Regions from separate parts of the Homo sapiens genome. Here regions 2 and 3 are each reported to be linked to region 1. The links are microRNA targets in miRTarBase. Many come from high-throughput screens and were not tested one by one. Region 1 holds a microRNA gene; each other region holds the end of a gene's coding sequence.

What was found. The annotated mature microRNA hsa-miR-3129-5p reads GCAGUAGUGUAGAGAUUGGUUU and lies in region 1 at 5,887-5,908, shown strand. An mRNA with a match to its seed (bases 2 to 7 or 8) in the 3' UTR can be bound and repressed. Matches are read on the target gene's strand: a 7mer-m8 pairs with bases 2 to 8, a 7mer-A1 pairs with bases 2 to 7 and ends in A, and an 8mer does both.
Region 2: the mRNA of MCCC2 is a reported target of hsa-miR-3129-5p. Seed matches in the 3' UTR shown: 8mer at 8,172-8,179 and 7mer-A1 at 7,870-7,876.
Region 3: the mRNA of TMED5 is a reported target of hsa-miR-3129-5p. Seed matches in the 3' UTR shown: 7mer-m8 at 7,215-7,221 and 8mer at 4,785-4,792.

The regions. Positions count from the first base shown.
Region 1 is chr2:189,127,658-189,138,989 of GRCh38, reverse strand. MIR3129 (microRNA 3129) reads left to right here and starts at 5,879; the gene lies at 5,879-5,954. All of the region lies in intron 1 of COL5A2 (collagen type V alpha 2 chain), which reads left to right.
Region 2 is chr5:71,654,496-71,665,827 of GRCh38, reverse strand. It overlaps MCCC2 (methylcrotonyl-CoA carboxylase subunit 2), which reads right to left. Exons shown (of 17, transcript NM_022132.5): 17 at 7,122-9,085. The coding sequence ends at 8,968. Among named protein-coding and RNA genes, the nearest start is that of CARTPT, 59 kb to the left of the region's middle.
Region 3 is chr1:93,145,511-93,156,842 of GRCh38, forward strand. It overlaps TMED5 (transmembrane p24 trafficking protein 5), which reads right to left. Exons shown (of 4, transcript NM_016040.5): 3 at 10,790-10,973; 4 at 4,232-9,378. The coding sequence ends at 9,160. Among named protein-coding and RNA genes, the nearest start is that of TMED5, 29 kb to the right of the region's middle. RefSeq lists a silencer at 1,039-1,239.

The DNA of each region.
Region 1 (11,332 bases):
AGACTTACTCTTCAACTTTTAAAGGGTGGGGTAGCTACATAAATCATTTGCAATTCTGCATAGGAGATTTGTCCTATTCTATTTTATATTTTGTATGTATTTACATCGGTATGGACTCATAGATATTTATTTTACATTTTTGGTGATATTTGAATGCTACTTTGCTTATTTTATTTGTCAAACTGTTTCAGTTTTGGCCACTGGAAAGTCTTTCAGTTGTATTCTGTGTCCCTTTGATATATCCCCATCATGTGGGCTTTTTTGTGTGTATGTACTTTTTTACTTTCGGTTACTATAAGATGTTCTAGGTTCGTTTTGTATATTTATTGGCCCAGTCCTAGAATCAGCTGTTTATTCAAAGAGCTCTTGTTCCTTATATTGGAGAATGCTATCAGAAACCACAATCTGGGACCTAGGTGTGTTCATTGCTACTTGGGAGTTGTTGCTTCTGTGTTCTGTCAGCTGACAGAGCAAGGAAATATATATGTGTGTACTAATAGTTGTATATACAAATATCTATATATATTTCAATTAAGCATGTATGAGTTAATATTTGGAAGCAGAGACAGTAGAATCGCCTGAGAAGAAATCTGAGCATTTCTTCTCAGATTTTTCCTATATGTGATATATAAACAGAAGCAAATCAAGACATATTAATAAGTAAGATAAGGGTAGAGCTAGACAGAGGCTGGAAATAATACCTTAAAAATATACCGGGCCGGGTGCATTGGCTCACACCTGTAATCCCAGCACTTTGGGAGGCCGAGGAGGGTGGATCACAAGGTCAGGAGTTCGAGATCAGCCTGGCCAACATGGTGCAACCCTGTCTCTACTAAAAAATACAAAAATTAGCTGGGCATTGTGGCATGCACCTGTAATCCCAGCTACTCAGGAGGCTGAGGCAGGAGAATTGCTTGAACCTGGGAGGCAGAGGTTGCAGTGAGCCGACATCATGCCACTGCACTCCAGCCTGGGTGACTGAGCAAGACTCCATTTTATATATGTATATCCTAAACCTGGAGTCCTCAACTGGATTAGGCCCACACAGATATTTTCCTGGGCTCAAACAGTGCTTTGAAAAACTATTAGAATTACATCATTAACATCAAACAATTGAGAGATGTCAAACACAAATATTGATTTCTATCTTCTCTTTAAAATTTGCCAGGTCTGAGAAATCCTAGGCACACATCATTTATGCACCCATCACCTTGTGCTGAATGGTGGTTCAAGCCTTCATGAGTATTGCACAAGCCCCAGTTCAACAGCCCATCTACCCATCCCCCGCCCCCAACTCACTGTCTTCTGCACAGTTAGAAGCTAGCTCAGGTTCTAGTCCATGTGCTGCTGTTTTTTCTATTGTAGAGGAGAAAGGAAAATATTTCCTGGATCCATGGCTAACAAATTAATAAGATAAGAAAAAGCATTTTCCTCTAAGTGAAAAGTATCATTTTTTGTTTAATACACAATGTGTGACTACATCAAAAGAATATTACTTAAAATTTCAGTACAAAATCAACCCAGCTCACCAAATTTGGATTTCTCTAATCCTGTGTTCTTCAATAGTGATCAGAACATAAGTCTTCCTTCTTGCTACTTGTACAAAATGACTTCATCAAGTAACATGAGCCAATACAGAATTTGGATTTAGGCGTGGCCTTGATATATATGTTATTATTAGATTTCAAAACTTCAGAAGACATCTCTCATGTAAGAGTAGGACTTCATTTTCTGTGATAATTTTATACCTCTTGTCATTTCCTATAAAAGACCAATGATAATTCACTCAAGATCCATAAATCACATTCTATTGCTATATTTAATGTATTATGTTTGTGTTTTTGCTTGAAGAGATTGGTCCAGTTAGTTTTATTCAGAATAAACACGAACGAAGAAAACATTTGTTAACTGTAGATTAATAATTGTAATTATAGAACCTATAATATAGATTTCTACTACACTAAAGAGATGGAATTTAGATTCAGCATTTTATTTGACATTTGGCTTCTATTTTTCAAAATGATGAATATTATCAGACAATAAAAAGTTTGGGCCATCAGCAGTTAAAATGAAAATAAAGTTCAGATTGTAAGTAGCTGAAAGTGAAGCAAGTTTATAGCTTGCCATGTTTTACTAACTGAACCAAACTAAATATATTTGGCAAGACAATGTACTTGTGGCAAGAAAATGGAAAAAAGCAGTGTGATTACTTGAATAAGGTTGAATTTAGGTCTAATTCCAAGTATTAAAAATAAATGTAAGATAAAATATAATAACTATTATAAAATATAACATTAAAAAGTATAGAAAGATCAGGTTTGGAAATTTGACTATCTCTTTTCCCCACTCTCCATATCATTGTATTATTGTTAGCATCATAAAATTTCATAGTGTTTATGTCTGTCTGTGTAAACATACAAACACAAGATTTCTCCATTGTTATACATGTATGATATTTTTATATACATATATATTTATAAAAAAGAAAAAATATACAGATGCCAAATGTGAGTGTATATATAACTACCTCCTAGTTAACCTGTGTAACCACACCTGTGTAAAAGAAAATATCTATATCCTCAATACACACATATGAAGCTTTTACATATATATAAGTATATACATATATAAGCATATATATAAATATGTATTTATATACATGTAAATTTGTACTCAGGTATTTTTGTGTACATAGCAGTAAGGTTTTCATTAGAAGATGCTGATTAGCTCACTGGAAACTTTCTGGTTTGCAGAATAATATGTTGTCTTTTTATACACAAATTAATTTCCTATGAACATGTGTAGCATAGATTAGCATTAAAAATTAATCTGATAAATACAAGGTGACTTAACTATTAAGTTTCTGCACTTTCAGTGCTGAGAAAACAGAGCTTTAGTCAGGCCTAGCTCAGTAAGTCCCATCCCACTCGCAATCATTTTATTCTAACACCTCCCTGAACATAGCCCATCCAGGGAATAAATGTGACTGGTGGACCTCTTTCTCTGCTGATCCTCCTTACTGATGAAAGGTTTACACCTGCAATAACACTCTCTTGTTTCAAATCCAGGGCCTATCACTTATGAGGGATGGGAGTTGCTGTGAGCTACTGTTGGTTGCCTCATGGGAATGATACTGTTTATTGAGGATTAAGTGAGATCAAGAATATAAAACAGTTAGGACAATATATAGCACATATTAAGTATTCAATGAATGTAAGCTTCTATTGCTGCCTCTCCTATTACCACTATTATAGCTACTACCAATTTAAACAAAATCCTTTTAAACTGAATGATCTTTTAATATCTCTTATAAAATATGTGTTCTTTTTCATTAATCTGGAGATTTCCTAAATGTGTAGATATAAGCATAGTGTTTGCAACTACTTGAAGCCAAAACAATTGAAAGACATTAGCCTACGGATTATGAATGATAAACTGCCATGTGGAGTATTATCTTTTGTTCTTCAGTTCACTGTTTGTAACCAATATTTATGACACAGAGAAGTAGGATTTGTCAGAAATCATTGCAGTACTTCATTTTCAAGCTTAGGCAGTATTTCTTTTACCAGATATGTACTCTGCAGATTCATAGAGCGTTCAAAGCCCATGTGTTACTCTTAATAACTCACAACTGACTGTGTGGCAATATTTTCTCATAAAATATCTCCATTATAAATTATGTATTACTTAAATATCCAGGTTAGGAAGAAAAAAGTTGCTAATAGGGTTGAGGTAATAGTCCAGTAATCCATGAGCATCTGTGGTAGGTTCTGTTTTTATAATTTGGTTGTTTTGAATTAGAATGTATATGGTTTTAAATTAAGCCAGTCATTTTTTATTATTTGACTACAGCCATGATGTAAGCTGAAATGGAAAATAGGAATAGAAAGATAACAAGAAGAAAAGTTGTGACTTGAATTGAAGATTTATTACATATGTTATATGTAGTCCAGCCAACCCAACGTTATGAGCTGGAGATATGAATACTATCCTTAAAGGCAAGATAACTTTTCAAAACTTTAAAATTAATGCCTTGTATAACTTCTCAGTCTGTACTAATTTCATGTGGTTAATAAGGCATGCAGAAGCTAATGTTGTTACTAATGAAAAATTAATTGGGATTAGAAGAAATTTCATTTTCTAAATAATAAAAACTGATTGTCCACCCTATTTTCCTGATTTTAGCCAAGCTTAAGAGATGTATGTGCAACTCTTTTGAATGGCATTTATGACATAACTTGTTTCATTTTCCTGAAATTTGCCCTTGGTTTGTTGTTTGCTGACCCTCAAATTCCAGGAAGGCATTTTCATGTAGGATTTTTTTATTCTATGAGTTCATCAATTTTGAATTTGCTTTATGCAAAACTGTTGACAATGATGTACTTTCTAAAATTTATTTCTGAGATGGAGTCTCACTCTATTTCCCAGGCTGGAGTGCAGTGGCGCAATCTTGACTCACTGCAACCTCCGCCATCCGAGTTCAAGCGATTCTCCTACCTCAGCCTCCCGAGTAGCTGGGATTACAGGCACGTGCCACCACACCTGGCTAATTTTTGTATTTTTAGTGGAGACGGGGTTTCGCCATTTGGCTAGGCTGGTCTGGAACTCCTGACCTCAGGTGATCCACCTGCCTTGGCCTCCCAAAGTGCTGGGATTACAGGTGTGAGCCACCACATCCAGCTGATAATGATGTACTTTAAAAATAGAGTCTAGCAAATTGCCAAAAGGTTATATTTATATTGCCAACTACCTTAGAGGAATTTTCAGGCTTAGATTATAACTAACTCTGTAAAGGCCAGCTGGCTGGTGAGAATGCATAAGGTTCTGCATGACTGGCTTTAATACAGAATGGAGGGCAAGTATACCAATAACTCTCAGAGTGGGATGAAGAGGATGACAGATCTAACAACCTGTATTGATTCCAAAGAAATCAATCAGCATATCATTTTTAGTATTTTTTTCTTTTTTGTTGGTGAAAGAAGAGCTTTCATAAAGGGTCAAGCAATTCTGTATGGCTGTGTCCTCCCTGGACTGCATGGTCATTTTCAAGCAGAGGGTGTGGCAGCGATTTCATGTATGTCTTCCCAATCCTTCACTCAGAAATAAACACCTGAAGGAAAACTAAAATAGTCATTCAGAGCAGGATATGGTGCTTTAAAAATCTTTTTCTTGTGTGAAACATAACTTCTGAACTCCTCTGATTCTGTCATTAACACTTGGTTGGTGAAGTGGTCTCTCTAGCTTCTTTTTCTAGCTTCCCCTCTGTCGTAAGGATGGACCCTTCTCAATTTACATTAGGCCCAGAGTAATGAACACCTAACTGGCTTGCTGCATGGAATCTTTCCCTGCTGCCTGACGCTCTTAGTTCATTCCGTTGTCTCAGAAGATTCAGTCTTCCTTTTTCCATTTCGCAGCTCAACAAAGGAAAAGACTTCATGCCATCCCTATCACTATCAACCAAGTAAATGCAATGCTGTTAGTTGATGTTCAAGATGTCTGATTAAAGGCAGCCAACACCCTCTGGCATGTATTCCACAAGAAGTTCTTTCTTTCATAAAGAAGTTGAATAGGCTGGGTGTGGTGGCTCACGCTTGTAATCCCAGCACTTGTTGGGGGGCCGCGGTGGGTGGATTACGCAGTCAAGAGATCGAGATCATCCTGGCCAACATGGTGAAACCCCGTCTCTACTAAAAATACAAAAAATTAGCCAGGCGTGGTGGCAGGTGGTGTAGTCCCAGCTACTCGAGAGGCTGAGGCAGGAGAATCACTTGAACCCGGGAGGTGGAGGTTGCAGCGAGCCGAGATTGCGCCACTGCATTCCAGCCTGCCGACAGAGCAAGACTCGGTCTCAAAAAAAAAAAAAAAAAAAAAAAAAGTCGTACTTGGGCAGTAGTGTAGAGATTGGTTTGCCTGTTAATGAATTCAAACTAATCTCTACACTGCTGCCCAAGAGCATTCTATATTCAACTTCTTTATCTCTGAGAAATTGCTTATATCTCCCCAACTGTTATTTCCAGAACACTCAGCCAGGGAACACTCAATTAATATTGTTTTATTAATTTTTTTTTTGAGATGGAGTCTTGCTCTGTTATCCAGGCTGGAGTGCAGTGGTGCGATCTCAGCTCGCTGCAATCTCTGCCTCCTGGATTCAAGCGATTCTCCTGCCTCAGCCTCCCGAGTAGCTGGGACAACAGGTGTGCACTACCACACCCAGATAATTTTTGTATTTTTAGTAGAGACGGGGTTTCACCATGTTGGCCAGGCTGGTCTCAAACTCCTGACCTTGAGTGATCCACCCACCTCGGCTTTCCAAAGTGCTGGGATTACAGGCGTAAGCTACTGAACCCAGCCTGTTTTATTAATTTTGACAATAAATGAGATGAATTGTTAAAAACTACATTGAATGCATCTTTTTTTCTTATACATTGTGATTTGGTTATTTGAATTTCACTCATTGTTTTTCAATACTATTCTTCTTTTCCAAAGATATTAAAGATACTTGACTTAAATAAAAGTACATTCAAATTATTATAAAGTTAAGATAGTTTTTACTTAATATCTGCAGCCAGGACTAATAAGTCTATGCAGCTCCCTTAAATACACAAAGTTCATTTCCTCTGTTTTAACAGAAATTAAAAGAAAAACGTAAAATCAGGTTTGTAACCTTTCCAAAAACAAGTTCCCTTTTTTCTTCTCTGATTTTCTGAAGTTGTCTGTACCAAAATGATACTGTTATTTAGGAATGTTGATGTGGTAGGAAACTTCTACTTATGTCTCTAAAAACCAGACCATGATTACGTATCATAAAAATAGATGCAAAACGTGGCTATTCTGGCCACTTGAGGTCAGAGAACTTTGCCATGACTATGTTTAATTACATGTCCATACAACTCAATGACTTATTTTTTCAAAGAACAGACATTTTAATACAAGACAATCAAAATATGAACCTCAGTGGATGAATTAATAGATACCTTATAATCAAAATCTGTCAGCCTCTGAATTAACCCAAAGTTCAGTATTCACATTTTATCAATTATATTACATAGAATTGCCTTGTTTGAAATATTTAGGTATTCTTATGAGAAATACATAATTACTAATTTACACGTATAATTTCTTTTTCTCCTCTAATTTGTTTTAACAAGTATGAGAGGTAAATTTAGCTAAAAATTATGTATATGGATGAAGAAATTCTCTTAGAGGAACTCTAAAACTAATTGAATCATACTTGATATATTTGTTCTTTTCAACAATTCAGTTTTTTAATGCATATTTCATTAGGGTACCATCAATGTGTTTTCCTGAAGCCTAATTACACAAAAAATTATCACATATTTTCCCTCCTTCGGGTCCAGACAGAGCTGTTATTGAGCTCCAGGCCTAGTTGCTGTTTTTGCTCAAAGAGATTTTCAATGTCCAATGGCATCTCAAAGTAAACCTTGGACCCTAAATTTTTTGTCCAATAACATATCCTGATTGTCTGTGGTCTCTTAAGACTATCTAATTCATTAAGACATTTTTTTCACCCAAGAAATTAAACAAATGTTAAATTTTCTCAGCGAATTTCATATTTTCGTGAAATTTTTACAATGGCTTGAGCAGTTTAAGAAGAAAAAAACCTTTTTGATGCTTTGCATTTTATTTGCTGGGAAATTACCTAGGCAAAGAAACTTATTGTTCCATTTTATGAACTTTACAATTCACTTAGCTGTCAAAGTTATTTCCGGTAACCCAAGAAAGAACTTGATACCACTTTTTATGATGACAGGACTTAAAGATGACATTTATTCCAATAAGAATCGTCATTTGAAAATACTATGTTATTTCCCTCAGGTCTCTGCTCAAATTCTACTTTATTTGTGAGCTTGTCCCTGATTATTCAAAATTAAGCTCAGTCCCCGCTCTCCTCTCAATTCACTTTTCTCCTGGAGCTCTTTGTCTTTACCTTGCTGAATTTTTGGTAACACTTCTTGCTACTAGACATATTGTATGGTTAGTAAGTATAATATTTGCTTATTTCCTGTTTCTTTCCACTAGAGTATAAGCTCTTTAAGGACTAAATCTTTTCTGTCTGTTAACACTTATATTTCTAACATTGATATGGTGCCTAAGATATAGAAGGTAGTCAATAATGTGTTGAATAAATAAAAATAAATATATTAAGCATTTGTGATGTGACTTGGGCTTTATAAACTAAATTTTTCACAGGCACTTGTGTAAAAGGTAGGTTTGTAGACTGGTTTATACTCTAATATTTCATTTGTAAAATGGAATGGAAACTTATCTGTGTAGAAGAGATACTAGATGCTAGCTAGATCTGTTTGAAATCTTTTCAGAGCCAAGGTGGCTATTTAAATATGGTGGCAATACTCTGATTTTATTTCCTCATTTCCCTTTTAGTTCATGTGGCTACAGTGAAGACCCACTATGTCCTAGATCCCTTGCTAGGTGTAAGGGGTACAGCTATGAACAACACATAGATACCCTGCTTCAGTGGAGAGTAGCCTAGCTATTAAAGCAAAAATTAGGAATAAATATGATGAGTGTCTTTACAAGTAAATGCCCTTTTAAATTGAGCACATATTAGGTGCTCAAAAATCATTGTTAAATAAATCAGTAAATAAATTTGTAAAGAGGCTGTATATCAAAACTCAAATCCTGACACTTACTTCTAGAAGTCTATTTCATAGACTCACCTCTTAAAATATCTCAGTGACTAAAAGGATTTGGAGTAAATAGTCTAAAAGCATACTCATAGGTTCTAACCACAAAATACTTCCATCTTCCCACAAATTACTAAAGGAAGGAAAATTCTCATGTGAAATTAGACAAGACTGTTTCTTTCAGAAATAAAAGTATTCAGGAATGTGTTTGTCCGTTGCCCTATCACCACAATCCAGGGCAGTGTCTGGCATGGAGAAGACAGAAAACGCATTTTTGTTGAATCAAACTGAAGGAATATAAGGAGGGAAAAAGATTTTAGTTCTATGGCCAAAAAGATTTCTAGAATATCACAATACAGACATTTTTAGCTAACTATTAATTTATTTCATCTTCCTTTGCTTCAAGGTCACATATGCTCATATAATTTATAACTGCTGCAGGCAGAACCATTAAGAGAGCACAATTTCAAACAAGTGTAAGCCACATGAGGGCATAAACTTTATATTACGGTAAACCTCCCACCACACAGTCTTTAATGTAGCTGCATAATATGTGTATTTGGTAAATGGCTGAATTATAATCCAACCTCTTCCCCTAAATCTTAACATGGATGAAGTTTAAATGGATGTATGATACAGATAAGTTGCTCTTCAATTCCTAATTTGAAAATGATTTCCTAAATCATACACTATAACTTGTCCCTTTTGAAATCAAATAGGTGATTTACAAAAGTAAATGTCACCTAGTACCTAGTAGCTTTTGCACGTAAAAGAGAGATTTTAAAAGATGAGAAAAAAGGAAATTTGACATAAAATTATTATTTTATTTACACCATTTTCTCTTCATTTCTGAATAATTCAAGGAATGTCCCAGAATCATCTCTCAAAATAGAAGCTTGAAAAATCCTCATTGAAAAATCAGTTTTCAAACATTTTACATATTTCATATTGAAAAACATGGATTTTCAGATTTCTTTAGCAAATCATTTATGGGCTGGGCCCCTTTTAGTGAAATGTAAGGAGTTTTTCCTGCCAATTTATAAAAGCATAGAAAAACAGGCTGAAGACACAGCTGACAGCCTTTCGGCTTTAGTATCGCTAGCCATCTGTTTTCTATAAGGTAGTTGTTTTTTCTTGTTAAGTTCCCCGTGTGAAATGTTTTTCTTTTTTTTTTTATTTTTGGTTTGTGAATTCTACCCAGTGATAAAACTCACCAGGGGACCATAAAGGCACAAATGGAATCTGGGAGAACTTTGAGACTTCTTATATTCACACCAGAATCTCACTTTACTAATCTAAATCAGAGACTTTTTTCCATGGAGATTTGTTACCGAAATACCAGAGTCCTAATTGATTAAAGCAATTTTAATTCAAGAGGGTTTTTGCCTTACAACAGATGATTATTGAGAGAGATTTCAGGTTTATGATAGTTTTCGGTGATAAACTTTCCTAAGGACGCAAGTGCCCCATTTAGCTTTTCTCTGTTATTATAAGGAAGAAGCAGAAGATATAGTCTTCTCTAACAGCTGGACGTAAGGAAGGAAAGGTGCCTAATTGGGAATGATCATTCTAAAGAACAACAGTTTTCTTGTTGCACATCATTGGAATGCTTATTGTGAGGACGATAGTAATTATTTCTGAATCTGGCATCAAAATACTAGAGATGCTTCTAAAAAATACAAGTTTCCAGTTTCAAAACAAAATCAGAGTCACTAGAAGTAGGGCCTAGGAATCAGTATTTTAAAAAATTCTCTGAGCGATTCTGATGCAAAGCCAGGTTTGAGGAGCACCAACTTAAAAGAAAATCAAGGCTGAAATTAAAAAGAAAAAAACAAAAAACAACAAACTCTTCAATATGAGGGATACACAGCATTTAAAATCACAAACTACATATAATTTTTATGAAACTGATTTTGGATAAAATATTTGAATTACAGAAGAGCTGAAAGATCATAAATATATGGTTACAAAAATAACCTGAAGCTTTGGATGGCTTGGAAAGATAATTACTGGGATTTGCCTCCCAATTCTGCAAGCAAAATACCACCTACTTTTTACAAACATAACTAGCAAGGTATGTATGGGTTATATTGGCAGAAGTCACAAAACATACTTCAATGGCTTAAAATGCCTCTTGTCAAGGTGCCTTATAATTAGCTTCAAAAGCCTTCCAGCTGTGATTCCATTAAATACAGGTGTATTGCTGTGGGCAGCTACATCAGGTACTGTGGCATTAATAGGCTCAACTAATTGCTGCAGTGGATTTGTGCAGTATTATATGCTTACTCAGAAAAATTTATCTTGCCCTCTTTCCTACACTTACCATTTCTGTTCTTGAAATCTGAGTGCACTTCTGTTTTATGACCTTATTTATATAGACAGACTTGACCTCAGGGCGTTTTGTGGAAGAAGCAGCACTCCTTCACTGTGATCATAGCCTTATATAAATGGATTTTTGTCAATATAATGTAGATTTTTCTCTCCTGCTGCATCCTACTCCAGATTCTGATAGGCCCTATAAGGAGGAGACAGGTGAGCATGACTCTACATTTGATACACATGTAAATGGATTTGAATCAGGCAAGAGAAATCTGGGAACCTCTGTGCTAAATAATAATGGTTTGTGTCTAAATAACACATACTTATTTTTCAAAGCACTCTCACAT
Region 2 (11,332 bases), not on the chromosome of region 1:
ACTCCAGCCTGGGTGACAGATCAAGATTCCGTCTCAAAAAAAAAGATAATAATCTCAAGTTATCAGTCATCCATGTTGGTGATGAATATTTCCTATTTATTTTATTTTATTTTATTTTATTTTATTTTATTTTATTTTACTTTATTTTATTTTATTATTTTTCAGACAGGGGTCTCACTCTGTCACCCAGGCTGGAGTGCAGTGGCATAATCTCAGCTCACTGCAACCTCTTTCTCCCAGGCTCAAGTGATCTGCCCTCCCCAACCTCCCAAGTAGCTGGGACTACAGGCAAGCACCACCACACCTGGCTAATTTTTGTATCTTTAGTAAAGATGGGGCTTCACCACATTGGCCAGGTTGGTCTTGAACTCCTGAGCTCAAGCCATACATCCACCTTGGCCTCCCAAAGTGCTAGGATTACAGGTGTGAGCCACTGCACCTGGCCTAATACTCCCTTTTTTAAAAGTCTAGTCATGGTCGGCTGGAAATGAATGGGCAAGAATCCTCAGAGACCTAAACCCTCTGTTTAATCCACTAAGAAGTTACAACAAAGCCACCAGAGCAGAAATGACTCTGGAGATGATCCTTTGGAAGCAAAATGCCAGCTACTGTGATGGCCCATTATATAAAATCCTTGTCTTTGCTTGTTTGTTTTTGCTCTGATCTCATTTCTTTCCATCACCAGGGATCTCTTTAGAAATGTTTAGCTATCGGTACCCACTTCCAGCAGTTTGCCTGAAACGAGGTAGGTCAAGAAACCAAAATAAGGCCAACTTTTATCTGCGCTGTGAGCTCTATCAGGAAAAACTGTACACAATGTAAAATTTAAGATTTTAAATTCATGAAAGTGTCTTGAAATGAACAGTGCCCATTTTGAAATCTACTGATCTAGCCTTCCTCTGTGAAGTGATTCTCAGCTTTGACTGCACATCAGAGTCACTTGAGAGTGTTTTAAAAACTACTGATACCTGGGTCCTAACCTGAACAGGTCTGTTTAGTTCACCTGGCATGCAGCCAGGGCCTCAGGATTTTTTCTTTTTCTTCCTTTTTTTTTTTTTTTTGAGGCAGATTTCTTGCTCTGTCACCAGGCTGGAGTGCAGTGACATGATCTCAGCTCACTGCAACCTCCGCCTCCTGGGTTCAAGCGATTCTCATGCCTCAGCCTCCCAAGTAGCTGGGATTACAGGCATGCGCCACCACACCCAGCTGATTTTCATATTTTTAGTAGAAACGGGGTTTCACCATGTTGGCCAGGATGGTCTCAATCTCCTGACCTCATGATCCGCGCCCCCCAATCCGGCCTCCCAAAGTGCTGGGATTATAGGCGTGAGTCACTGCACCTGGTCAGGATTTTTCTTACTCAAAGTTTCTCAAGTGATTCTAATGTGCAGTCTGGGCTGTGAATCACTGATCTAAAAGAACACCTACTTACCGAGAAGTTAATACAAACTCACCCTTCCCTGAAAATGGGGGAGAGAAATGTACAATTACCTAGCAAATATGCAAGAATGATAATATCACAAAGCAGAAATTTATCTTAGGATCCTAACATTTTGGAGCTAGGAAGGAATTTAGAGATCATTGAGAGTGGTGGTTCTCAGAGCATGATCCCCAGACCAGCAGCATCAGTGTCAGGTGAAAACTTGTTAGCAATGCACATTCTGGGCTGGACGCAGTCGCTTCTAGCACTGTGGGAGGCTGAGGTTGGCGGATCACTTGACCTCAGGAGTTCAAGACCAGCCTGGGCAACAATTCGTTTATCATTCATAAGACCATCACTGTGGCCTTAAGGCTATACAAAAGCCACTTAAGACTACCCAAGAAGTCACTACATTCTGTCTCCTGGTATGATTGTCTTTAAACTATCCCCAGTGGTAGACTTTCAGATTTTTAGCCAGATTTCCAATTAAAAGTAACCTAACATCTTGCTCAGTGACATATTTCAGTGATCAAAACATTGCAATAAATTGAGTTGCCCTTGTGACGATTTAAACCCTTGATCCAGAAGCCCCACATGGCGGCGCATGCCTGTAAGCTACTCAGGAGGCTGGATGGCAGGATCCCTGGAGCCCAGGAGTTTAAGGCTGCAGTGAGCTATGATCATGTCACTGCATTCCAGCCTGGATGACAGAGCAAGCCCCTGTCTCAATCAATCATTAACTAATTTACATTTAAAAAATAAACATTCAATCCATCCTCACTGGGGATGGTGGTGAGAAGCCACAACCCTCCTCCTTTGAATGTTCTGTGTATTTGAGGACCAAAATTCTCAGTTTACTCTTCTGTCTATACCATCGTTCTTTCACCAAGTTTGAAAACATAGAGTGACTTACTGTAACCTCTGGCTTGCAGAAGAACATGTTGCCAGGTAGGGTTGGTTGCTACAAGCATTGAAACATGACTCTCCTAAATAAATCAATAAATAAGATTGTTGGAAGGATACAGATGCCTCTGACTCACAGATTCTCAGTAATCAGGGTTGTGCCAGGGACCCTGGAGCAGAGGTGAGTGAACGAACAGCTTCTTCAGGTCTACTTGAACTCAGTGTCATTCGTCTTCCATCTTTGTCTCTCTGCTAATGAGTCAAAGCACTTGAGAGAGTCCACCTGGCCAAGCCTCAACATGTGTCCAGCCCTTGGTGTCCAGGGCTCTTTGCTTGCCACACTGGCCAAGACTGTGCAGAACAGGAGAGGGGTAGTTCCCAAAGAGAATGAAAGTACAGTTACCAAAAGAAGACAGAGGGGTACCAAGAGGCTGAAGATAACCCTCAAGTCACTGACCAGATACTGCACCAGGCCAGGAGCCACGTCTTCTTATCTTTGTGTACCATCCCGAAGCCCGACACATAGTGAGCCCTCGGTAAATGTATGCTCATTTGAACAAAACAAGCTGTGACCAACTGGAGAATGGGTCTTCCTGGTAAATGATTGCCACCATGAGTCCCACCGAGCCCTGAGGTACATGCTTTCCTGTGGAATAAAAAAGGCTCTCAGCATACCCTATCTACCCTTCCCTCCAGTCCTCACCCCTCGGCCCACCTTCCCTAGCCATCCACTAGCAGAGAAAGAGGGAATCTGGAGAGGTGGAGAAAAGACTTAGGCATGTAGAAGGAGGGAAGGAAAACAATCACTGGGCCAGAAAGGCTGATTTTAATCCCCTCCCATCCTCCTCAGGTTCATACAGCGCGTTAGTAGCTGAACTAGAGCGAAACCGGTCCACACCCCGCCCAGTGTTCTCTCCACGACCGTGACCTCCCATGCATTAATGCTCAGTCTTCACAACTCGTTGCTAATGTGACATGGTCACTTAGACACAGCTTTTTTTTTTTTTTGAGACAGGGTCTCGCTCTGTTGCCCAGGCTGGGGTGCAGTGGCACGATCACAGTTCACTGCAGCCTTGGCCTCCCGGGCTCAAGTGATCCTCCCACCTCAGCCTTCTGAGTAGCTGGGACTACAGGCACACACTAGCATGCCTAGCTAATTTTTTATTTTTATTTTTTTGTAGAGACAGGGTTTCACCATGTTGCCCAGGTTGGTCTCAAACTCCTGGGCTCGCGCGATCTGCCTGCCTTGGCCTCCCAATGTGCTGGGATTACAGGCATGAACCACCATGCCCCAGCCTAGACACAACTTTTAACAATGAAAGAAAACATTGGTTTCTGCTAAACAATTTAATTCTATGGGAAGCTATTTCTGTATCTAAAAACACCACGGTAACCATTACATCCAGCAATAAATACCATAATATACACTTATAGAGCAAAACTTACCAACAAGTCTTAAAGGTCTGTGTATACTTTAACCTGTACACTTTTATCCAACAACACTATTGCTAAAAATGTATCCTAATAATCACAGATATGTAAAGAAACTAAACAGATGTTCACTGCAGCATTATCTGTAATGTGGGAAACCAGAAAAAACCTACAGGTACAACAATAGGGGAGTAGTTAAATCAAAGGGAGGATTCATGCACTGCATTATCGTGCAACATCAGAGTTATTGCAGAATATTAGGCTGGGTGCGGTGACTCACACCTGTAATTCCAGCACTTTGGGAGGCCAAAGTGGGTGGATCACCTGAGGTCAGGAGTTCGAGACCAGCCTGGCCAACATGGTGAAACCCCGTCTCTACTAAAAATACAAAAATTAGCTGGGTGTCGTGACGCGCGCCTGTAGTCCTAGCTACTCAGGAAGCTGAGGCAGGAGAATCACTTGAACCCCGGAGGCGGAGGTTGCAGTGAGCCGAGATCATGCCACTGCACTCCAGCCTGGGTAACAGAGTGAGATTCCATCTCAAAAAAGAAAAAAATTTGCAGAATATTAAATTTCATGTAAACAGGTCATTATATTTACAATACATTAAGTGAAATGCAGATTACAGAATAACATGTAGCACACAGCATTTTTGCAAAAAAAAAAAAATTCGTAAAGATAGAAAAAGACTAGTACACGAAAAATATTAATAGCAGTTATCTCTAGGTAGTGAGATTATGAAGCTTTTTTTTCACTTTATTTTCTTCACTTTGTCTTCCTAAATTTTCCGCAAGTAACATTGTTAGATTTTTAGATTACAAATAACTTTAAGACAAAAATTATTTCTAATTATCCGGTAGATAAAGGAATGTCATTAACAGTGCTGTGGCTGAAAAATGTTGAATACATTTTCTACAGGAACGTTTAAAATTAGTCTGAGTATTCTAAAATTCTACCTGTTTTTCTTCTGAGTTCACTTCTTACAATCAACACTTACTGAATTACACTTAAAAAAATTGTTTTTCTTGGTTGAGCACAATGGTTCATGCCTATAATTCCAGCACTTTTGGAGGCCAAGGCAGACGGGTCACTTGAGTCCAGGAGTTTGAAGCCAGCCTGGGCAACACGGCGAAAACACATCTCTGCTAACACAAAAATTACAAAATACAAAAATTAGCCGGACGTGATGGCATGTGCCCGAGTCCCAGCTACTCAGGAGGCTGAGGTGAGAGGATCACTTGAGCCCAAGGGGTAGAGGCTGTAGTGAGCCAAGATCACGCCACTGCACTCCAGCCTGGGCACTGGAGCGAGACCCTGACTCAAAAAAAAAAAATTTTTTTTTCTACTCCAGCTTACTTCTAACATCTGGTTCTGGGTATATTTTCCTTGCGATAACTTCTCTGTGAAATCATCACCTTCTAAGACCTTATTCTCCCTGAAAAATACTTCTCTTGCTTACCCTAAAAAGTAGCACAAACATGTGACTTGGTTTGTGAAAGACAAAGCTGCCAGACATATTGAACCACTGATCTCAGAAAACTAACAGCTGGGAAACAAAATCATCCCTGCCCTATGGTAAACTCTCCTCTAGGGTCAATTAAATGACTCCCTAGAATGCTAATGCACACATATTATGTGACTGGTATCATACTGAAATCTATATTGAAAGTCATGAAGCAGGTATCTTGAGCGAAGGCTTCTAAGAATTTTCAAAAGCTGATATGCAAACAAAGTATTCAGTCATGATGATGTTACAGGCAGCGAGCACACATCCCAGTTCAAACTGGGATGAGTCGGTCCCAGTTCAGACCTGTTTCCCAGTGTAGTTATTATTAAGACCCCCTTTTTCTCACTCTCAAAAGCCCCAATGTGGATGGTAAGTTACACAGTCAACTTGATGGAATGTACATTTGCCTAGAAAGGTAAAAGGGGCATAGAAATTTCATTCATCCCTAAGAAAAACTTAGTCCTCAGGATCCTGATTCCAGATACAAGAGAATTTGAAGCACATAAAATAAAAGCACTATTTATTTATTTACCTATTTATTTATTTATTAAGTAGAGACAGGGTCTTGCTATGTTGCCCAGGCTGTTCTCCAACCACTGGGCTCAAGCAATCCTCCTGCCTCACCCTCCTAAAGTGCTGGGATTACAGGTGTTAAGCCAGGGTGCCCCGCTGAAACAAACTATTTTTAAGCGTTTAGTGGAAAGGCACAAAACGTTTTGTCGAAAATGATTAAAATCTATGTCATCATTAAATATTAATTGTACTTAATTGTAACATTTTAAGGGAAATGTTATGAATGACACTAGGCTATGATAACCTAGTTCATCTTCTTGCCATTTTTCCATATATGAAACTTCAGAACCAATCATTAGAAGATCACTAAGAAAAAAAAAATCGCCAAGACTCTTAGTGGAGATTTAATCTTCCATAAAACCAAACTCAATGCATTTTAGAACTAATGTGGCCTCTCAAAAATAATCTTATTAATGTATCATTCCAAAACCTGCTTTGATTTATCCCTGTGAAGGAAACATATGGCCTCTCTCTGGAGAGACATACACATAAGCATGTTGGCAAATGATGGTGTCACTCAAACACTCAATAGTGCCTTCTGCTGGTGCAGAAGTGTTTTTTTTTTTTTAACAAATTCGATTTGAAAATACTTTTCTTATAAACTGAAAAATAGAAGTAATCTTGTCTTTTTCATTCTTTAAGTACCAACAGGGGCAAATTTAGAGACTAACTTGTATATTTCTTCAAATTCCAAGTAGCTCATATTATCCTTGCTGGAATTCATATTTATGATAGTCAAAATGTTTAAAAAGTATTACCTATTTTGGTAAGACAATTATAAATGTTTATTGTTGGGTAAAATATACAAAATAGAGCAAGGCGTAGTGGTGCAAGCTTGTAGTCCCAGCTACTTGGGAGGCTGAAGCAGGAGGATTGCTTGAGCCTAGGAGTTCGAGTCCAGCCTGGGCAACATAGCAAGACCCTGCCTCTAGAAAAATAAGTTTTAAAAAATCCAATTCACTTAAATGTGGTTTTATTGATGGACAGTTTCTTCCCAGAAAAGCAAAAGCAGTCCTAAAATATCCATGAATCCTTGACTTGTTAATGGTTCCTACCAAAGGAATATTACCTAGTCTTTATATAGAAAATCATTTTGACATAGATGTGCATTTTCATTAAAATTTTAATATTACTATTTTAATATACTTAATGTATTGCTTCTGAAAATGTAACCTACCACTGAATTTGATCATCTATCTATATTCTCCCCACAAAAACTAAATTGACTTCCTGGTACACATTGAACATCACACACAAATGTTTAAAATACTAAATATCACACACAAATGTTTGAAATATTGACTTTATTAGGAAAACATTTGATAGTTCTATTCGGTCATATAATCAATCACCTAATTTTAAAACTATGTGGCCAGAGGACATCAATTACAATATGGATTTTTCATTCATTCAACGAATATTTGAGCACCTACAAGTGCCAGACATTGGAGGTACAGGGTAAACAGGAGGATCCTTGCTCTCACGGAGCTTACATTCTAGCAGGAGGACAATATTAATGTTTATAGGAAAATGATGAGTTTATGACAAAGGAAGTAGATAGTGTTTTACAAGAGCATAGAGTAGGGAAGCTAATCCAGCACAGGGAGGTCACAGAGACATCCCTAAGGAAGTGGAGTTTAAACTGAGAGAAGCAAGTGCTTAAACTGAAGGATGTGTTGAAGAAGAAGGGAGAGTAGAACAATTTGGGCAGAGGGAACCTTATAGACCCTAAGGTGGGAAGGTTCAAAGAACTGAAAGAGAGCTAGAACAGCTGGAGCCGTTCTCCGGTGTAAAGAGGAGTCAAAGAGATAAGATTAAAGATGTGAAGATTAAGATCTTGGTGGCATTCAGGGATTGGCACTTCTACAAGAAATCACTGAAGGGAGTAATCTGACATTACTTTTCACTTCAGGATGGCCATTCTAACTCCAGGGGGTAGACTGGACTAGGTAAGACTGGAGGCAGGTAGACCTCTTCTAAGGCCTGCGATAGTGAAAGACAAAAATAAGTGGGGAAATTCAGGGGATAGTGAAAATCAGTAGGACTTAATGAGCAAGCCAGAGGTTCCTCCACAACAACCAGTACAGATGTCCAGTAGACCTACTGGATATGCAGGCCTGCAGCTCAGGGGAGAGCTGGGTTAAGAACCGTCAAGGCAGTAATCATCTGCATTTAGATGGCGAGTGAAGCCATGACAGGGGCTGAAATGGCCCAGCAAGAATAAATCAAACCATGAGAAACACATACATTTAAGAATAAGGAGATGTGGTCAGGCGCGGTGGCTCACACCTGTAATCCCAGCACTTTGGGAGGCCGAGGCGGGTGGATCACTTGAGGTCAGTAGTTTGAGACCAGCCTGGGCAACCTAGTGAAATCCCGTCTCTGCTAAAAATACAGAACTTAGCTGGGTGTGGTGGTGCGTGCCTATAGTCCCAGCTGCTTGGGAGGCTGAGGCACAAGAATCGCTTGAACCCGGGAGGTGGAAGCTGCAGTGAGCCGAGATCACACCACCGCACTCCAGCCTGGGCAACAGAGAAACACCCTGTCTCAAAAAAAAAATAATAATAAGGAGATGTCATGGGCTCGGGGGAGGGGGAAATGGGGAGCGCTGTTGTTTGAATGGTATAGTTTCAGTTTGGGACTGAGAACAAATTCTGGAGATGAATGGTGGTGATGGCTGCACAGCAGTGTGAGGGCACTTTATGCCACTGAAGTAACAGATGCCTTTCAAAAATAAGCCCGCTAAAATATCACCAAGCATAACCAGCAAAACAATCATTTCAGTGAAAATACAACTTTATATTAATCATCTCAATAATACAGATTACAGAACTGAGTTTACAGATTACAGAACTTTTCATACTTTGTGGGTCAGAAAGGATAACCGTAAATTACTGTCTCCGCTTTATGGGTGGTAAAACTGAGCCACAGAGAAATTTCTCTAAGAAAATTTAAAAGGAATTGATGTTCATTAAATAAATATCCTCACTGATTTTTTTAAGGTAGAAAAGTACAATGCACAGTGTTAAAAAAATTACTGTAACAGCCTCATGTTCGAGAAGTCTAAAATTTTAAGGCTACTACATGTGTTAATTTTCAGTACATGTCCAACAGAAAACATCCTTTATTCCAGTTACATCCTGAAGATACCGAAGTCAGTCTTCTCTATTGGTGCGTTGAGGGCTGCACTAAAACTGAGACCCAAGACCAGTCTGGTGTCTGCTGGATCAATGATCCCATCATCCCATACCCTGACAAAAGAACAAAAAAAGAGTTATGAATTTACCACCAAACTACCATTTATACACTCTCCATGTGCAGAAATGCCAAGGAAGTTTTCCTTCAGGTAATATATGGATCTACTGATTAGCATCCATGTACCATAATCTCACAACAGAAACTACGTTCAAGACAGAGGGGGAAAACGTGGAAAAAAATGATATGACCTTCATCCCAGGCCACCACAGAATGTCATGTCAGGCTTAAGGCTTAAGGAACTACTTTTATAAGAGATCTCAAAGTAACCCCTAATTTGACAATACGTTTACTTATTTCAGGAAAAATTTTCCTATTCCTTTTCTTCCCACACAAATATATAAGCCAAGTTGGTGTATTCTGTCATTAATATGCAGAACCACATATACCCAGGTAATAACCTCAAACTTTACTGGAAAATGTATATTCCCCAACCCCCATCCAAACTCTTAAGAAACTATGAAAATTATTGAATAGGCTTCAGTACATTTTATCTTATTTATTATTATTATTATTTTTGAGATGGAGTCTCGCTCTGTCACCCAGGCTGGAGTGCAGTGCAGTGGCACGATCTCAGTTCACTGCAATCTCCGCCCTCTGGGTTCAAGCAATTCTCCTGCCTCAGCCTCCCTAGCAGCTGGTATTACAGGAGTGCGCTACCACACTTGGCTAATTTTTGTATTTGTAGAAGAGACGGGGTTTCGCCATGTTGGCCAGGCCAGTTTTGAACTCCTGACCTCAGGTGATCCGCCCACCTCAGCCTCCCAAAGTGCTGCGATTACAGGCGTGAGCCACCACACCCGGCCAGCTTCAGTACATTTTATTAATAAAATAGATACCTTCAAATGTAGGTCTTTATTTTTTGCTACAATAGGAAAAACAATAACTTTAAACTGCTTGCAGAAGAAACTTTTAAGTAGAAATTTTAGTTTCCTTCTCATTGACAACCTCAAATGTATAACGAAAAATGACTGAGAAATATTACTTTTTAAAGGTTATTAGTAGGTGGCAGTTTGCTTTTTTTATATAAACTCCCTTCGGTATCTGAACCTGGCATCAACTATTAAACCATTCTTACATTGACAGACATGAATCAAACCTTTGCTCATAAAACATTCATAATAGGGACCCTAAAGTATCAACACCCAATAAAAAGAAAGCCACTCTTGTCATCTGCAACCAGGTGAATTGATTACACTCCCTCTGAAGCCTGCAGCACAGCAAGCATGGTGATGAAGGGGCTGCTTAATAATGTTCATTAAAAAGACTGCCCCAGGTAAGAGGCACTAATGAAATGCCGGATAAAAGTTTGATTATAAAAACAACTGAGCAGAAGCAAATTGGCACGCTACATATGTAACCTATTAGGATTAAGGAAAACATTGTAGGTTTCAGTAACTGATAATAACAAGCTCTGTCTCTGAAAAGACAGATCTAGCCATGTTCAAACCTAAGCAGGCCAGGGAATTTTACTGTGAAGCTGAGATTTACTAAACCCAAGGAAGGTACCATAAACTGGCTTGGAAATCCTTTCAGCTTTGAAAGAAAGCTGCTGTCTCCATGCCACCAGCTGTTTCAACAGAAGGGTTAAACATCTACAGATCTGGCCAGGTGCAGTGGCTCATGCCTGTAATCCCAGTACTTTGGGAAGCCGAGGCGGGTGGATCACCTGAGGTTGGGAGTTCGAGACAAGCCTGACCAACATGGAGAAACCCCATCTCTATTAAAAATACAAAATTAGCCAGGCGTGGTGGCACACGCCTGTAATCCCAGCTACTCGGGAGGCTGAGGCAGGAGAATCCCTTGAACCCAGGAGGCGGAAGTTGCAGTGAGCCGAGATCATGCCATTGCACTCCAGCCTGGGCAACAAGAAACTCTGTCTCAAAAAAAAAAAAAAAAAATCTACAGATCCACAGAAAACTTTACTGTCTGTTAACATTTATTTCCAAAGATAAGTCTCTCTGGGCCATTTACTCTTCTGCCTTGAATGTAATCCATTAAAAAATAATAATAATGTTAGTATGAAAATAATAAAAGATGCAATCTTTCTCAAGAGATGATTTATCTTAGCCAGGGCTGAAAAACAAGCTAACAGCTCACACAAAATACACAATTTTTCAAACTTTAATATTTCAGCTGTCCCTGTGTATTTCAGTCAAAATCTTATGTGGAAAAAAAAAACTATAGAAAAGCTTAACAATATATATTTTATATTTCATCTCAAACCTCTTATACGGCTTTCT
Region 3 (11,332 bases), not on the chromosome of region 1:
TAATCCCAGCACTTTGGGAGGCCGAGGCAGGCGGATCACGAGGTTAGGAGATCAAGACCATCCTGGCTAACACAGTGAAACCCCGTCTCTACTAAAAAGACAAAAAAAGTAGCCTGGTGTGGTGGCAGGTGCCTGTAGTCCCAGCTACTCGGGAGGCTGAGGCAGGAGAATGGCATGAATCCGGGAGGCGGAGTTTGCAGTGAGCCGAGATCGCACCAGTGCACTCCAGCCTGGGCGACGGAGCAAGACTCCGTCTCAGAAAAAATTAAAAAAGACGTAGATTGTACTGAAAATAACCATCATAACATAGAACTTAATTAGGATCATTCTCTTTAGAAATTGCATGAATTTTAAAAATTATTGTCTAGGCCGGACTCGGTGGCTCATGCCTGTAGTCCCAGCAGTTTGGGAGGCCAAGGTGGGTGGATCACTTGAGCCCAGGAGTTTGAGACCGGCCTCGGGCAACATGGAAAACCCATCTCTACAAAAAATGCAAAAATCAGCTGGGGATGGTGGCACACGTAGTCCCAGCTACTTGGGAGGATGTAGTGGGAGGATCACTTGAGCCTGGGAGGTGGAGGCTGTAGTGTGCAGAGGCCACGCCACTGCACTCCAGCCTGGATGACAGAATGAGACTCTGTCTCAAAAAAAAAGTGTTTGTGTGTGTGTGTGTGTGTGTGTACGTACACACAGCAAGAGAGAGAGAATAGTCAATGTGGTAAAAGCTTTGGTTTAACATTTTAAAAATATACTTTTAACACAAGACATTTTAAGAGGTTGCGCTGAACAACATAAAATGAGTCACTGCTTTATAATCAAAATCCTGTTCATCATAAGTACAGGCAAAGTATGGTTTTCATTAAATAAAACTCAGAAATGTTTATTTCTTAACTTCATTATTGCTATTATTTCTAAAAAATTTTTTCTGGGGCTCTGCTATTGAGGCCTTTGTTTTAATTTCCTAGAGCTGCTACAAGTTGCCAAAAACTTGGCAGCATAAAATAGCAGCAGTTCGTCAGAGTTCTAGAGGCTAGAAGTCTAAAACTGAGTTTGTGTCAAGGTTGGTTCCTTCTGGATACTCTGAGGGAGAATCCCTTCCATGCCTGTTATTGTTTCTGGTTGCAGCTGGTAATTCTTGGACATATAAGTCCAATTTCTGCCTCCATCTTTATGAGGCATTCCCCTATTTCCAATCTTCCTCTCCTTTTCTTATAGGGCAACAGTCATTGGATTTGGGGCCCATTCTAAATGCAGGGTGATCTTATCTGGAGATATTTAATTACATGTGCAAAGACCCTGTTTCCAAATAAGGTTACGATGACAGATACTGGGAGTTAGGACTTGGATATATCTTTTTCGGGGGGACACAAGTCAACTCACTATAGTATTACAGGATTTTTTCTTTTATGCTTTAGTTTTTCTGAAAGTGGTTGAGATGTAAAATTCTGTGTGGTTGTATTAAGTGTTTATTCAAATTCAGCAATCATGTTTTGAATGCCTATGAGTTGCTGTGAAGAGATAGAGGAAAGATTAGGAGCCTGCCTCTGAGTTCTTAAATTATGGAAGATAGACATAAATAAACTAAATTTGAGTTGAAATTGATAATTACTATGGAGTATCGGTACAAAGTTCCATTGACATTTAGAGTAAGCCTAAGAAAGATACCAAGGGAAAGACTTATTGAAAGGGAATTAATTCTATTTGAATTAGGCTTTGAAGGATGATAGGATCTTAACTGGCAAAAATAGGATAGTGTATTTTATAGCATAAAATCAAGGAGGTGGAATTTGGGGGGGTGGTGGTGAAAGTATTGTTTATAGTATAATAGTACAGTCTTGGAGAGTTAGGACATAAGCGTAATTGTTAAGTAACATTTGAAAACAGTAGATGACTACAGGTATCAAAATATGTGCTGTATTGCTGGAGAAATGAGATTGATCTGGACTGCAATATTTGTTAGGTTTTACCTTGAAGGATGGGTTAGCTTGAATAGAGGCTACATAAGAGAAAATCTAGTTTCAACATGAAGGAGCAGAATAAGGCCTGGAGTCAAGAATGAGCGTGTCACTCAATATTTGAGGGCCTAGCATTTTCAAAGACATTACAGTAGTCACCTCTTGTCTGTGGATTCAAGTGTTAAGTTGCATGCCATTCTGAGTAGCGTAATGAAATCTCACACAAGAGTCATCCCCTTGTCCAGCCTATCCATGCTGTATATGCTACCTACCATTAGACACTTAATAATCTTGGTTATCCTATCAACTATTGCAGTATTGTAGTGCTTGTGTTCAGGTAACCCTTATTTTACTTTATTGTGGCCCCAAGGTATAAGTGTAGAGATGATGGCAATTGGATATGCCAAAGATAAGTCATTAAGTCATAAACTGAAAAGGTGAAAGTACTTGAGAAGAAAATTATATGCAGAGATTGGTAAGATCTAAGGTAAGAACAGATCTTCATGAAATTGTGAAGAAAAAACATTCGTGCTAGTTTTAAGATGAAAAAGGCATTAGCCCATTTATGCCTAGTGTTTTATTATTGGAACGTTAAGCTTGTGAGAGTTATTTATATCCTGCTGCTCAAGGTCATTGCCAAGGTCTGATTTTTCACAGATTTTGCAACCTCCGGTATAAATGGGTTAAATTTGTGGGTGGAAGACACGAACAGAAAGAAATGTGTTCCAGCTGACGTCAGGGTGTTGCCGCGAAAGCACTGAGCCTATACAAACATTCAGCAAGGGATCTCCTGAAATGAGTGATACCAAGCCATTTGCTGCAAATAAGGGATGGTTACACAGATTCAGGAATGGGTTTGGACTGAAGTATTTAAGAATTACTGAAGAGGCTGTGTCTGTTGATGAAGAAGCTGCTGCCTCATTTCCGGCAGAGTTGAAGTTAAGGAGCAAGGATACCATTCAAAGCAAGTCTTCAATTGCAGTGACATCAGGCTCTTCTGGGAGAAGATGCCCAATAGAACTTAGATTCATAAAAGTGCAAATGCGGCGGTATCAGGGCATACAGCATGGAAGAACAGATTAACTCTGGTACTATATGGCATTGCTGCAGGGCATATGATAAAGCGAGGTGTAGTGTATAGAGTGAAGAACCTACATGATCTCGAAAACAAAACAAAATATTATGTGTCTTGGCAACATAATCAGTGTGGGTGACAGCCATTTTTATGGAATGGTTCCACCAGTGCTTCATCCCAGAAGTGCAAAAATACTTGAAAGAGAAAGGGTTAGAATTTAAAGTATTAATAATGGACAATACATGAATCTGTCTGCTATGAAAATGAAAATGTTGAGGTGGTATTTTTACCTCCAGATAAAACCTCACTGCTTCAGTCCCTGAACAGGGCATCATTCGGTTTGTCAGGGCCACATACAACTGCCTGATATTTGAACACATTTGGTCAGCAATTGCTGCAGACCCTAATACGTATATAATGCAGTGCTGGATATCATTCACTATTGCTCATGTGATAACATTCATCAAAGCTGCAGTGGATGAATTAAAACCAGAAACAGGTAAATACCTGCTGGAAGAATGTGGAATTATATATATGATTTAAAGGCTTCCTAGGGACCCATGGCAAGTTTAAATCATGTAGCAAGACAAGACAATCCTTCACAGAACTTGTGAAGGATTTGCTGATGTGCTTGATGAAGAGCATATCAAAGGCCATCACGAAGTGTTAACAAATGAGGAATTGGAAGAAATTTTTGAGTCATCTGCAGAGGGAGAGGAAGATTAAAAAAACTGAAGCAGAATAGCCAACATAGACATTAATTAAACTTGCCGAAGTGTTTTGAATTGCACAGACATTAAACAACAGAATTATAGAATACGATCCTCAGATGAGACACAGCATTAAAGTTACCAATATGATCACCAAAGGATTACAGTCTCTGCAGCAACACTTCGATGAGCTGAAGAGTCAACAACTTCTGGTTACAGTGTTCTTCCAAAATTTTTCAGCAAAAAGACCCCAAAATAGAAATCCTTCACCTATTGAGGATCCCCAACCATCAACATTGTCTGCTCCTTAACCATCAACATTACCTTGGCTCAGTGATCCAGGATTACCCGAAGTTATTTTGATGATAATGTAGCCTAACTACATCACTTATACCTACATCAGTCACCTCATTTCATCTCTTCATGTAGGCATTGTATGACATCTCACAGCCTCACAAGGGTGAGTACAAGATATTTTGAGAGAGAGAAACCACATTTGCATAACTTTTATTACAATATATTGTTGTAATTGTTCCATTTTGTTAGCTATTGTTAATCTCTTAATGTGCCTAATTACAAATTAAACTTGATCGTAATTATGCATGCATAGGAAAAAACAGGCCGGACATGGTGGCTCACGCCTGTAATCTCAGCACTTGGGAAGTTGAGGCGGGCACATCACTTGAGCTTAGGAGTTCGAGACCAGCCTGGGCAACATGGCGAAATTAATTAGTCAGAAATATGTATATACCAACATACTAATATGTTTCAGCTATAAATACTTCTAACATTTCACATGTATATTTATGTAATCACCACAATCAAACTACAGAACTTTTCCACCACAAGGCTCCCTTTATAGCCACATTCTCCTTCCCTTCAGTCCCAAGACCTGGCAACCACGAATCTTGTTTCCCATCTCTATAGCTTTATTATTTAAGAATGTTACAAAAACAGAATCATACAGTGTGTAAAACTTTAGGATTGTCCCCCCAAACCACCCAAGCATAATTCCCTTGAGGTCCATGCAATTTGTTACATGTATCAGTAGTTTGTTCCTTCATATTACTATTTAGTATTCCATGGTGTGGACATACTAAACCATTCACTCTTTTTGAAGGACATCCAGGTTGTTTCCGGGTTTTGGCTATTATAAATGAAGGTGCTATGTAACATTTGTGAATGTTAAGTTTTAACTTCTCAGGGATAACTGTCAAGTAGTACAAATGCCAGTTATATGTTAAATGTATGTTTAGTTTTATAAGAAACTGCCAAGAATATTTTCCACAGTGGCTCTACTATTTCATATCTCACCAGCAACGTATGAGTGGTCCACTTATCCAATTTCTCTTGCATCCTAGCAAAACAACTCTAAAATTTATCATTTGGAACTGTCTTTTCTTTCTGCAATGGTATTACGTGTCCTTTTAGAATTGAAATCAAGGGTAGAAAGGTTAGATTTAGTCCAGCCTCCCATTTCATATTAGCTGTAGTAACAATCCCCTTTACAACATTTGATCATTATTGCCACTTAACACTTCCAGGATTAGGGAGTAGTATCTTTCTTTCTGAGGGAGTTTATATCAGTTTGGGTAACAGATTCTCATTGTTCATTTTACTGCTTTCCTATTTCTTCCTCATCTTCCATAAAAGGCACAATAATAAATCTAAGCTTGTTAAAACAGAAACAAAAACAACACAAGTACTAAAACGAGGGTTTTTGTTTGTAAAACTGTCAATTAGGATTTTAATTCATGGTCAGTGAAGACCTTCAGGATTTTCCCTGCCCTGCATTTTCTTGCCTTTTTCTTTCAGATGCAGGGATCCAGAGTCCATCTCCATTGTGCCCTGTCTTATGTAACATCATCCTAGCTCTAGATTCTTTAATTGGTGTCCTTTCCCCAGACGTACATTAGGTGTATGGCTCCAGGTTATGACAACAGCCTTCCAGAAGCCTTAGACACCTGAAAGTGATAGCAGTGCAGAAGCAGAAAGGTGCCTAAGGATTTCTACCAGCTTGTGGTAGAAGAGTGGCTTGTCTGGATGGTTTGAGGGAAATGACCAAATAATAACCTACCTACACCAAGCATTGTACTTTTCCTATATGCTAACAAGTTTTAAGATGTTTCTGAACAAGTTTTAAAATATTTCTGAAAATGAAATAGTCTCAAAGGAGTTTTGATTTTGCAAGATCACTTAGCAAATGATCCAAGGATAACTGACAGGATTCTATATTGTGTTGGTTGAAAATTAAGAATCCTGAGCCATATTCCAGACCTGAATAATCAATTTCTGGGGTGAGGTGGAGCAGGTAAGTTCCCTGGGTGCTTATTTAGCATACCAAACTTTAAGAACTGATTATCTTTCCTTTCATATATTTTGAGCAAAAACTGTACCTTTTAGGAACAGTGCATGTTTAGGCAACAGGTGAATAAGTACATATAGAAACAGAACTCCAATGCAAAGTAGAGTGATGTACAATAAGAGGTGTAGAGAGCTATGGGGTTTCAAAACAGGAGGAGAGAGCACATTATTAACTAAATAGAGATGAAGGAAGGCTTTCAGGAGTAGACAGCATTTACAAATGACTGGCAGTTAATTTTCTTTGATAATTTTTATTATATACATATCAGTACTCACAATACGTTGCTTATTTAAGATGGCTGTTTATAAGTATAAAGCAGTTTGAGCAACACTGATTGTGCATTATTGTACTTCAGATGAAAAATCCTTACATGTGGAATCAATGTCTTTTAAAATTTCAGATAAAGAATTTTCATTTGAGGAGACATACAATTGTAAGTGCTCATTTTTTGTCAATTTTAAGACACCATTATGTGTAAGAAGGATTAATTTTACCATAAAATTACAAACACCCTCCATGTCTTGACATTCACATGAAAGAACAGCATAACATTAATCATCCAAATGCATATCAGAGCAAACTCTAGGCCTTAGTGTGAGGTGAACACGGTAACTGCTACATTATGGAAATCGGTTGGGCCTTAGTTAAATATTGTAGTATTTTTAAAATTTGTATATTGAAAAAGACAAAATGAGCTGTTAAGTGATAAACAGCTTACTCAATTTAGCATAACTTTAATTTAGAAATGGAATAGTGAAATTAAAAAAAGCATATGAAGCAGATAAACAGTATGTCTTTAGAAATATTAAAGATTTTTACTCTGTTTACAAGTTTTGCTTTTTTGGTTATGCCTCTTAAATATCTGTCTTTTTACTTTGTCTATAAAAATAATTGTCCTTAGTATTCCTAAATTCTTTTCCAAATAAAGCAATTATCGTTTTTATATGGTAAGAAGTTACTGAATCATAGGTTTAAGATCAGTGGCACAAATCATACATGTAGAAGATTATGTAACAAATTCATTGTTAGGTAAGGAGTCAGAGAGTACAGTACAGTAACAGCCATACAGGAGAGGTAGAATTCTTAATCACAGTTTTATAGAAAAGATGCAGTAGTTTATATCTGTACCCTGCTTTATTAGTTATGGTACTGTAAATTTGCTTCTCATTGCAAATTTAACAGCGCAAAAGGGAGGGGTATTCATAGGCAAGGATCTTATTGACCTTTGTTCTGCAAGTGTTGCAGAGGATACCCCTAGACACCTGAAGCATTTTCTTGGCCAATTAAGGTAATTGATCATATACGGCATTTACCTCATTTTTAAAAACCTTGCCAGTAGGGAAATCTAAGCTGCTCTTCTCCCAGGGGCCTAAGAGGGAAATGTATCTCTTTTTATACTACTATGAGTGTAAATGAAATCACTCTCTGGTTATCATTATTGCTCATCAAGAATTCCAGCATTACTAACCTGTTGAGGGGTTCTATACCCCAAATTTTAAGTTTGTTTCTAACTCACAATGTAGTCATAAACAACGTTATAAATGGGCATAACTTAAAAATTATAGTTCATTCATGATGAAGTTAAATTACTAGTACTTGAGTAAGACCCCCATAGACTTCAAAAAGCTAGATGGCAGAAACTTTGTTGTATATATGGGTTATTCACATTTAGGTGTTTAAAACTTGGGAGTCTATGTTTCTAATCCTTACTTCAACATCAATAAATAAAGTGTTCAGAAAGGCCATTTTAATAAAAGTTGTTATAATAAAAATTTTTAATAAATATGTACACCCAGTGCTAAACCTTACAGTAGGGCTTACATTTTATAAAATGTACCTGCTTACAAAAATAATTCAAACCAGAATTCTTGTAGAAAATAAAAACCTACAGCCAAAGTTTCTTCCAGCTAACTGGAAATTAATCATCTCCTTTGATTTATGTTATGAGTAGGATGTCATGATGAGCCAGTCAGATTCTAGATATTTATTTATAGTTCTACTTAAGTGAATTTTATTTTGGATTAGGTTTTCTCAAGTTTTTCTAAATTCTTTCCTGTTTCTGATAATTCTTAGAGCTCAGAAAAGGAGATATTTATTTATGGTAGGCCCAGATCATTTTAGCAATATTTCCTTCATAACTGCTGGTAATAATGAATTATCCAAGTCAGCAATCATGTTAAAATTAACATAACATGATTATTAACTGTTGACAGATATTAACTTGACAGATACTATTAAAAATAAACTTATTTTACCTCACATTTAATTTTAAAATCCTACACTTTAGTTAAGGGTTAGAGAAAATGTGTCCCTATGGAGGAGGAAGCTTTTAAACTATATTCTTCATTTCAAAGAGAAAACATGTCCTAATTTTAGTAAGTGTAACTTTGTGTTTTTAAGAATCGTGAAAATGTCAGCTTTTGGGAATGTAAGCAAAGTACAAAGACTAATGCTTTCTGCTAATATGTTACACTGAAATGTATTTGGTTATAAAAATCTCAAAAACCTAATTGTATTTCAAAGCTATTATTCTATTTACATTATAGGAGAGATGCATATGTAAATAGAGAAAAGTTGGGCTTTTGTAGTCTAAAGATTTATTCAATCCATCATTAGGTAATTCTCAGGTGATTTATAACTTAAAACTGAAAACTTCCACAGTTAATTTGTAACTGCCGCATTTACAAAAAAGTTCTGGGTAATAGAACCTGTTAAAAACAGACTGGTGTTGCAATTAGGCCCAATACTCATTTATTTAAATCACCTAAGACATTTGCAAAATTTTTCAAAGTTAGGAAAATGCAGTTATTAATATGGCTTCATTCAGTTAAACCTATATTCTGCAAAATATTCCTGTTACACACTTAAGTACAACTGGATCAGCAGGATTACTTGCACAGAAAGTGAAGACTTAATTTTCACATTAAAATTATACCTGTTTCCTACTTTTATATCTCAAAATATTTTGGAGAAGACCATTAATGGTCTTGACTGTAACAGTTTATTGCATTTTTATGCCTCATTTTTCAATGTTACGTACTCTAGTTTGGAGTTTTAAGTTCTACTTTTCCTCTTATCTTCAAACAGACTCTTCAGCATATAAACTTGAATGGCTGACACCACCACCATGACCACTAAATTAACCATAGACCAGAAATTGACTCTATCAAAGTTGCTTTCTTGTATGTTTCGATCACGAGCTTCAAATGCTCTAAGCAGAGTTTGTATGTGCCCACTTTTGCTTAGTCTGGACTTGATGCTGTTGATGGATTCCTGGAGATAAATAAAATAATTTTATTATTAAAGAATGCTCAGAAATTTTAACTTAATTAAAAAATGAGGCTGGGTGCAGTGACTCATGCCTTGTAATCCTGGAACTTTGGGAGACTAGGGCAGGAGGACCCCTTGAACCCAGGAGTTCAAGACTGGGCTGGACAACACAGACAGACTCTGCCTCTACAAAAAGATGGGTATGGTAGCACCAAGTGTGGTCCCAGCTACTTGGGAGGCTGAGGTGGGGGGATCACTTGAGTCCAGGAGGTTGAGATTGCAATGAGCCATAATGGTGCCACTGCACTCCAGCCTGGGCAACAGAGTGAGTGAGACCCTGTCTCAAAAAAAGTTTTTTTCAAAATATGCTTTATGTTTTTTATCCAAACACAATTTTAAGTTAGATGGCTGCACAATTCAATTAAAGGGCAGGTACTATTTATATTACATTAGAGATTCTCTGTAAGGTTATATAATAGTTCTCCTGACATATTTATATTGTTTATAAGTAGTTATTTAACAAGGGAACAAAGCTACTGTGAATTGAAAATAGGTAACATGAAATTATTCTGAGTGGCATAGCATCAGGAGTTTTACGTACATTATCTCTTTCTTAGTCCTCACACAACCAAAGGAAATGACTAAGGTTTTTTTTTTTTTTTTTTTTGTCGGGGGATGGAGTTTGCCTAGGCACAATCTCGGCTCATTGCAACCTGAGACTGTGCCTGGTCAAATGATTAAGTTTTTAGAGATGGGGTCTTGCTATATTGGAGTGTAGTATCTATTTATATGTGTGACCATGGTTCACTGCAGCCTTGAACTGGGCTCAAATGATCCTCCCCCTAACCTTCTGAGTAGCTGGGATTACAGGTACCTGCTACCATGCCTGGCAAATGATTTCATTTTTAAAAACCCAATTGATATAACTTTAGGTATTTACCTATTACATAATGCATGTGTTTATAATATTTCCTTCTTTGTATGTTTATCTGAACAATTTAGTATTCAGTAAAACACCCAATGTTTTAATACCACAAAATAGTTGTGAAATTAGAAAACATTTTACTTTTCATATGCCTGCTGTATAATCAGAAGCATAATCTATTTATAATTTAAAAATTCTAACTGCACATTTATAAAACAAACTTACCAAGATGCAGTCTTATTTGCACATCTGAAGCTATTTTTATAATAGGGTCCTGGAAGATAAGTTATTTGAAAACTATAAAAGGGCTATATTAATATAAAATAAAATTAAGCTGATACTTGAGGTCAAAGTATTTATGGCAAAAATAAAATATTAGAAACAGATTTTCCTGGATAATGCAGATAAAATGCTTAGTTCAGTAACTTATTACCATAGTAAGGCCTCTGGCTGTTAATAATTTTTATTTTATTAGAAGACCATACTGACCAGGATGTCTTCCAGTTTCATATCCAATATATCTGTGCCAGTAATATATTTCTTCCAATCTTCTTGTTCTTGTGCCTGTTCTCCCATATTATCCAGGATTAATTCAAAGAAAATCACCTTCTCAGAAATGGTGCTGAATGTATTGTCAAAGCAGAACATGTAATCACCAACTTCAGTCTCTACACTGTATAAAAAAAAGTACATGTTTTAAGTTACCTGTATTTCTATTTGTGATGAAAAGCAACTAAAGGTAAAAATAAGAAGTAACAGGCTGAGTGTGTTGCCTCACACCTGTAATCCCAGCATTTTGAGAGGGCAAGGCTGGTAGATCACTTTAGCTCAGGAGTTTGAGACCAGCCTGGGTAACATGGCAAAATCCTGTCTCTACAAAAAAATAACAAAAATTAGCAGAGTGTGAGGATTGCTTGAGCCCGGAAGGTTGAAGATGCAGTGAGGCATGATCATGCCACTGCACTCCAGCCTGGGCAACAGAGCAAGATCCTGTCTCAAAAAAAAAAAAAAAAAAAAAGAAACCAACAAAAC